2 linked regions of the Homo sapiens genome follow. The protein of the gene in region 2 interacts with the protein of the main gene of each other region in a pairwise test. Each region holds a gene or a part of one and is shown on either strand. Other genes may lie near its edges.

Region 1 (3,500 bases), on a different chromosome or scaffold from region 2:
TGTGTGAGCTTTGAAGGTGAGATCCCATTTGGAGCCCTCTGGAAGCGATGAGCATGACCAGGAGGAATGAAAGGAAGAGTGGCACATTTTCTTAATCCAGTCTATCATTGTTGGACATTTGGGTTGGTTCCAAGTCTTTGCTATTGTGAATAGTGCCACAATAAACATACGTGTGCATGTGTCTTTATAGCAGCATGATTTATAGTCCTTTGGGTATATACCCAGTAATGGGATGGCTGGGTCAAATGGTATTTCTAGTCCTAGATCCCTGAGGAATCGCCACACTGACTTCCACAATGGTTGAACTAGTTTACAGTCCCACCAGCAGTGTAAAAGTGTTCATATTTCTCCACATCCTCTCCAGCACCTGTTGTTTCCTGACTTTTTGATGATTGCCATCCTAACTGGTGTGAGATGGTATCTCATTGTGGTTTTGATTTGCATTTCTCTGATGGCCAGTGATGGTGAGCACATATACACCATGCAGCCATAAAAAATGATGAGTTCATGTCCTTTGTAGGGACATGGATGAAATTGGAAATCATTATTCTCAGTAAACTATTGCAAGGACAAAAAACCAAACACCGCATGTTCTCACTTATAGGTGGGAATTGAACAGTGAGAACACATGGACACAGGAAGGGGAACATCACACTCTGGGGACTGTTGTGGGGTGGGGGGAGCGGGGAGGGATCGCATTAGGAGATATACCTAATGCTAAATGACGAGTTAATGGGTGCAGCGCACCAGCATGGCACATGTATACATATGTAACTAACCTGCACATTGTGCACATGTACCCTAAAACTTAAAGTATAATAATAATAAAATAAAATAAAATAAAAAGAAAGGAAGAGTGGAAGAAGGTCAAAGACCCGCCCTGAGGGACTTGGCCATTCTCCAGGTGGAATTCAGGTAGAGAATTCACCTTCTGAGGAACACCAATAACAACGTTAGCAGGCGCTACTTTTGGCTTATAGCTCTTAGTGAGGAAACTTCCTTTTATATTTCTCTAGCAGGGACAGTTTGGGCCTATTTAGAAGAAAGTATGTGTGATGGGGGAGTGGTAATAAACATCTATCAACTTTCTAACAATCAGTCCTGGCCCAGCGAAATGCCAATGTCATGAACGTCACAGTGACAACTCTGAACTTTATCAAGGTGTCAATAAAGACTTTCAACACCAATGATACTTTTGACACCATTTAAGATGAAGTCTGGCAGCCTCTGTAGTTAATAAGTGGTATATAAGCAAATGCATTAAATGCTTCCTTAACTCTTTGAAAGGTAAGTTACTAAGTCTTAAGACCCATTCAGCACTTGTAAAAACTGAAAGCAGTCTAAATGCATGACTTGGCAGTTTCCACAGCTTCTAGAGTCCAAGGCAGACTCTCCTAATTAGCAGAAGGAAGCAAACTGTTACCTCATTATCAGTGCTAACCATTATCCCTGACTAGGGAATGGTCAAACAAATGATCCTCATCACCTCCTGATGGGATTGTCCTGAGTGCACTCTCGGAGCAGTGCACAGCCGGGCTGCCATTCCTGGAGCCTTTCACAGGGCAGAAGGTCTATACTATGGCTGGGGAATGAGACTAGCAGGGCTGGGCTAGGAGCACAGTGAGCTTCCACTTGTCCCCTTCTCTTGAACTCCTGACTGCTCCCGAGGAATGTGGCCCTCAGCCAGAGGCAAGAGAGCAGACTGTGTAACCCCTTTGTTTTCCTGCCTTCACTCTAGAGCAGTGGAGCCACTAGGGATTATTCAAGCTCGAAGGTCCACACAGTGCAAAGCAAATGTATACTATTATGGTCTGCTTTTTGAATGAAATCTTGTGCTGCCACACTTGGAACTTGCTATTGATACCAACAGTAACTTGCCTTGTATCTTTGCACTGGGGGTCTGCAAACAATACCCTAAAATACTGACACTTGGCACTTGACCTGGTGAACTGAAGAAGCACCTCCAGGTCTCCCTCTGACCTGCCTGGTCTCTGGTCTCTCTGATCCTTTTTCCTGAAGCACTGAGAGAGACTCTTTCTGGAATTTCGCTATCTGACTAGGGGCATTTCTTTCCAAAAGAAATGTAATTAGGATGTGCCCAGTGGCTCATGCCTGTAATCTCAGCACTTTGGGAGGCTGAGGTAGGAGGATTGCTTGAGCCCAGGAGTTCGAGACCAGCCTGGGCAACATAGAGAGACCCTGTCTTTACAAAAAGTCTAAAAATTAGGCATGGTGGTGTGTGCCTGTAGTCCTAGCTACTCAAGAGGCTGAGGTGGGAGGATAGCTTGAGTCCAGGAGTTTGAGGTTTCAGTGAGCTATGATCATGCCACTGCACTCCAGCCTGGGCAACAAAGCAATACCCCATCTATTAAGAAAAGAAAAGAAGAAGATGAAGAAATGTAATTGTCTTAAGATCCCTTGCCTGGGAATCCAGGCAGACAGAGACAACCTGGGGAACTTTACCTGCATAATGAGAAGACTTTTGTTCACAGTGAAGTTCCACCCCTCGCCTTCCCACTGCCTCTCATAAGCTCAAGGAACTTCATCCCAAGGCATTGTTCTTTGGACCCATTCATTTTCCCTGAAAGTCATTTACTCCTACACACTCCCACCATCCCCTCATCCCCTATGAAGAAGGATATATAAGCATCTGGACCCCACTGGGTTATTGGCGATTCCCCAGTGCTTATACATGTTAAATAAATCTGTATGCCTTTCCTTCTATTAATCTGTCTCTTGTCAGTTCATTTTCAGTGAACCTTCAGAGGGCAGAGGAGAAATTTCTTTTCATATTTCGCTAGCAGGAGCAGTTTTGGCCCAAACTGTATACTTTTAGTTAGAAGGAAGTAGATGTGAAGGGGGAGTGGTAATACACCTTATCAGCTTTCTAGCAATCAGTCCCTTGGTCCCTACAATCGCTTTAATGCCAAGGAATCCGTTAATTGTGCCATAATTAGGTTTAGCCAGCCAAGTAATTCTAGGTCACTTCTATCTTTTCACATTTAGCATGGAAGTGTTTTTCTGGTTACATCTCCAAATACATTGCTTTAGTGTTTTTACAGTTCTACTACACAGTCTTTGCAAATGGACCACTATTTTCTAATCAAGAAACCAAGGACAATTTGTGTCACATCATCCTTGTTCCCTTCTTGCAATTTTGGAAGCCTTGAGGAGTGATGTTACTAAGGAGGAGGGTGATGCAGATTTTGAAGGTGAGGATGGGAGCCACTTCAGGGCTCAGCATCTGCCCCGACAATGCCTCTTTCCCAGCTGCTTCACCATTGCTGTGCTCCCTACCTGGGCCTCTCAGTCATCCCACTTCCTGTGAGGCCATCCTCATAGGGCTAACAAGAATTATGGACAGAAGTAGTTATAATCAAGCATTCATCAGGCTGCTTTGACCCACTTCCTTGTTCTGAAAGTCTCATAGCACTAGTAGATACTGACCGTTTGCATCCCCGCTGTTCCTATGCATAGAATTTCTGACATGAGAGTCACAA
Region 2 (3,500 bases):
TCCTTAGTCTTAAAAGCCAGAATCCTTGCTCAGGAGTTAGAGGACAGCTGCCCTTCCGAATGATGGATTCTCTGACAACTCCAACTGTCCATTTTGTCTTCTTTGCTACTTCTACTTCCCAGTACCACTTTCCAGAGGTGAAGCCTCTTGAGCCCAGTACAGCCACACTTGAGTCAAACCTCTCAGGATCATCAGGCATTATCTTCTTAATGTCACCATGCCAGACGCTGGTTTGGCTTTTGGAGAGCACCAGATTTGGGTGAGCTGTTTTAGGGTCCAGAGTTAGTGGAGACAGGCCTAGTAAGAAAATAAAAGAAAGCAGAGCATGGGAGAAAGGGGGGTAAACACAAATTCCCACAGTAAAAGATAGTATTTCATATTCAATAGTACTTTATCTCCCCATACACATAGACTCTTAGACAGGCAAGCAATTACTTATATGCTTTTTTTTTTTTTTTTTTTTTTTTTTTTTTTGAGGCAGACAAGGTTGCCCAGGGCTGGAGTGCAGTGGTGCGATCTCGGCTCACTGCAACCTCCGCTTCCTGGGTTCAAGCAATTCTCGTGCCTCAGCCCCCCAAATAGCTGGGATTACAGGTGTGTGCCACCACACCTGGCTAATCTTTGTAATTTTTTAGTAGAGACAGGGTTTCGCCATGTTGGCCAGACTGGCCTTGAACTCCTGGCCCCAAGCAACCCACCTGCCTAGGCCTCTCAAAGTGCTGAGATTACAGGCATGAGCCACCGCACCTGGCCACTTACATGCTTTTTATTGTTTGGGTATCCATGTTACTATATTCTAGACATTTTTATATTTAGGGTAAAAATCAGGGTTTACTCAGAAGTAATTTATGCTCTACTAAAGGAAACAATACAAATAATATAAACCTATACTAATAAATATAAGAAAATACAAATGCCAAAGGGGTAAAAATTAGGTAAGGATGTTCTAGGAAAGCTTTCTGAGGAAGGTAAGTATTCAGTTGTATATACATGAGATGTATTTAGGATGTTTTGAATAAACGGAAAGAAAGAAATGGATTAAAAACAGTCCCCTGTGTGGAAGAGAACACAAGAGCTTGCCTGTTAGACACAGGCAAGACTGAACTAACTGGTACAGAGTTTAGAGGACAATAGTGAGAGGTTTATTTTGGTTTAACAGATAATGAGATTTTTGAGATCTAGAGTGGTTTATGTCATTGCTACTCATAATGTGGTCCACATACCATGTGGTTAACAGTCTCGGACAAAGATAGTATAGAAATTAACAGTAAACTTTTAAAAACTTTCATAGCAAATTGACAGTAATTTTATGTCAGTTGAATCTAATAATTACAAAATTGGGCTTGTACTTTGTAATCTTTGCTTTTTTTAATTTTACTTTTTCAAGTAATTTATATTGTATTCTACAAAAGTATCAGTCCATGACAGATTGAGATTTTTTTGATTGGCCCTTCATCACAGATAATTTTACAAGCATTGGTTTAGACAATTCAAAGGGCAGCAGTATAAAAAAGAATATCTAAACTAAATGAAGAGAGGTTGAAAGCTGACCAGCAAGAGGATGACACAAATTCCAGATGTGAGATCATTGGACCTTGACATGAAATTTGATAAAGGAGACCTAATAGCTATGTGTGTGCACACCATGGACACAGATACATGTATGCATGCATTTGTTGTTATTGGATTTATTTATCCTTGGAAGCAGAATCAATCTAGTTTCTCTCTCTCTGTTTTTTTTTTGTTTGTTTGTTTGTTTTGTTTTGTTTTTTTTGAGATAGATTCTTGCTCTGTCCCCCAGGCTGGAGTGCAGTGGCACAACCTCGGCTCACTGCAACCTCCGCCTCCTGGGTTCAAGCAATTCTCCTGCTTCAGCCTCCTGAGTAGCTAGGATTACAGGCATGCACCACCACGCTCAGCTGATATTTTTTGTAATTTTAGTAGAGACAGGATTTCACCATGTTGGCCAGGCTAGTCATGAACTCTAGTCTAACTCTATCTTCTCAGAAAAGCCTGAGTCTTTTCCATTATCCCAGGGACTTCTCTTTCCAACAAGAGGCTTTGAAGAATTAAGAATCTTGAATTTTTCCATATAGGCTAAATCCCTATCCCCTTACATATCCCCATTCACTTTGGGTTGTTAATCTTTCTGATGTGAGGACTGGGTTTTCTTTGGAGGTACCATAAAGACTTTTTAGCAACGTTTTGGAATCCCACTCTGCTCTCTTTGCTAAGCCTCTGACACATCTCTAGCTAGTTCAGCCTGCACTGGCTCTGAAGATTCCCATGAGTCAGCTTTTTGTCCTCTCTTTCCTTCTCATGCCACGTTCATATAACGAAAAGTTCTGTCAGCTCCACCTTCAAAATATATCTTGTGCCCAAACACTTCTGACTACTTCCAGAAATATCACTGGCCTGGAACTACTGCAATAGCTTTTTACTCTTCTGTTTCCTCTCTTGCCCATCTGCACCCTATTCTACACATATCATGAATGAGATCAAGCCATTTCCCTGCTCAGCATACTCTTATGTTTACCATCACATCTGAGATAAAATCCAGAGTCCTTATAGAGGAAAAAAGAGCCACATGATTTACCTACCTCTCTACTTCATCTCCTACCACACTTTCCCTCATTTACTTTGATTCATCCACCCTTGTCTTTTGGCAGTTCCTTGAACATAATGAAGATCATTCCTACTTCAGGGTCCTTATAATTTCTTCCCTTGTCCTAGAATGCTTTTTCCCCATATGGTTCACTCCACATTATTTGGGCATTTGTTCATGCAAATATTTTAAATTGAAAAATTCCCTAAGCTAGAGTAGGCAAACTACAACCAACAGGTCAAATCTGACCCACTGCCTACTTTGTAAGTAAAGTTTTATTGGAGCACATTTATGACCATTCATTTATATGTTGTCTGTAGCTTCTTTTTCACTACAAGAGCAGAGTTAAGTAGCAGCAACAAAGACCATACACCTGCAAGGCCTAAAATATTTACTCTTCAAACCTTTACAGAAAAGTGCCAGCTCCTGCTCTAAAGCAACAGCCTAATTTATAAGGCTGGCAGAAAAGGAGAATATATGGATCTACAAAATAAGCAAAGACTTAGAAATAAAAAGTATGGAATATATTTTACAAAGGTCTGACCACAGTTACCATAGAAAAACAATTTCCCACTCTGTATAGAGGGAGAGTATATGGATAAATAATACATTATTAATAAATAGTCATATATTAAATAAATCTCATTTGGTTTTCTTGATGTAAAATTATACCAAAAATTTAAAAATCAGTTTGCATTTTAAAAGATTGCTAGAAGTGAAGTTTGGCTTTACAGAGCAAAGTATACAGGAAGAAAAACTCTGTCATACCAAGGCAGCTACAATTTGCTAAGCAGAGTAACACAGAGGAGGGAACTTCACAGAAACTTACAAACATCTACAAAGGGATTCTCTCAAGGCTGTGGCTGAGTACTAATCTGCACATGCATGCAGTGAA

Evidence for each region. Proteins that work in one complex are often made in the same cells at the same time.
Region 1: the proteins of TRIM69 (region 2) and IYD interact in binary tests that used the Homo sapiens proteins (3 or more experiments, as listed by UniProt).

Annotation. Positions count from the first base shown.
Region 1 is NC_000006.12:150,375,512-150,379,011, reverse strand, and holds part of IYD (iodotyrosine deiodinase 1), read right to left. Parts: intron 1-3,500. UniProt on the Homo sapiens protein: Catalyzes the dehalogenation of halotyrosines such as 3-bromo-L-tyrosine, 3-chloro-L-tyrosine, 3-iodo-L-tyrosine and 3,5-diiodo-L-tyrosine.
Region 2 is NC_000015.10:44,764,028-44,767,527, reverse strand, and holds part of TRIM69 (E3 ubiquitin-protein ligase TRIM69), read right to left. Parts: intron 298-3,500; coding exon 1-297.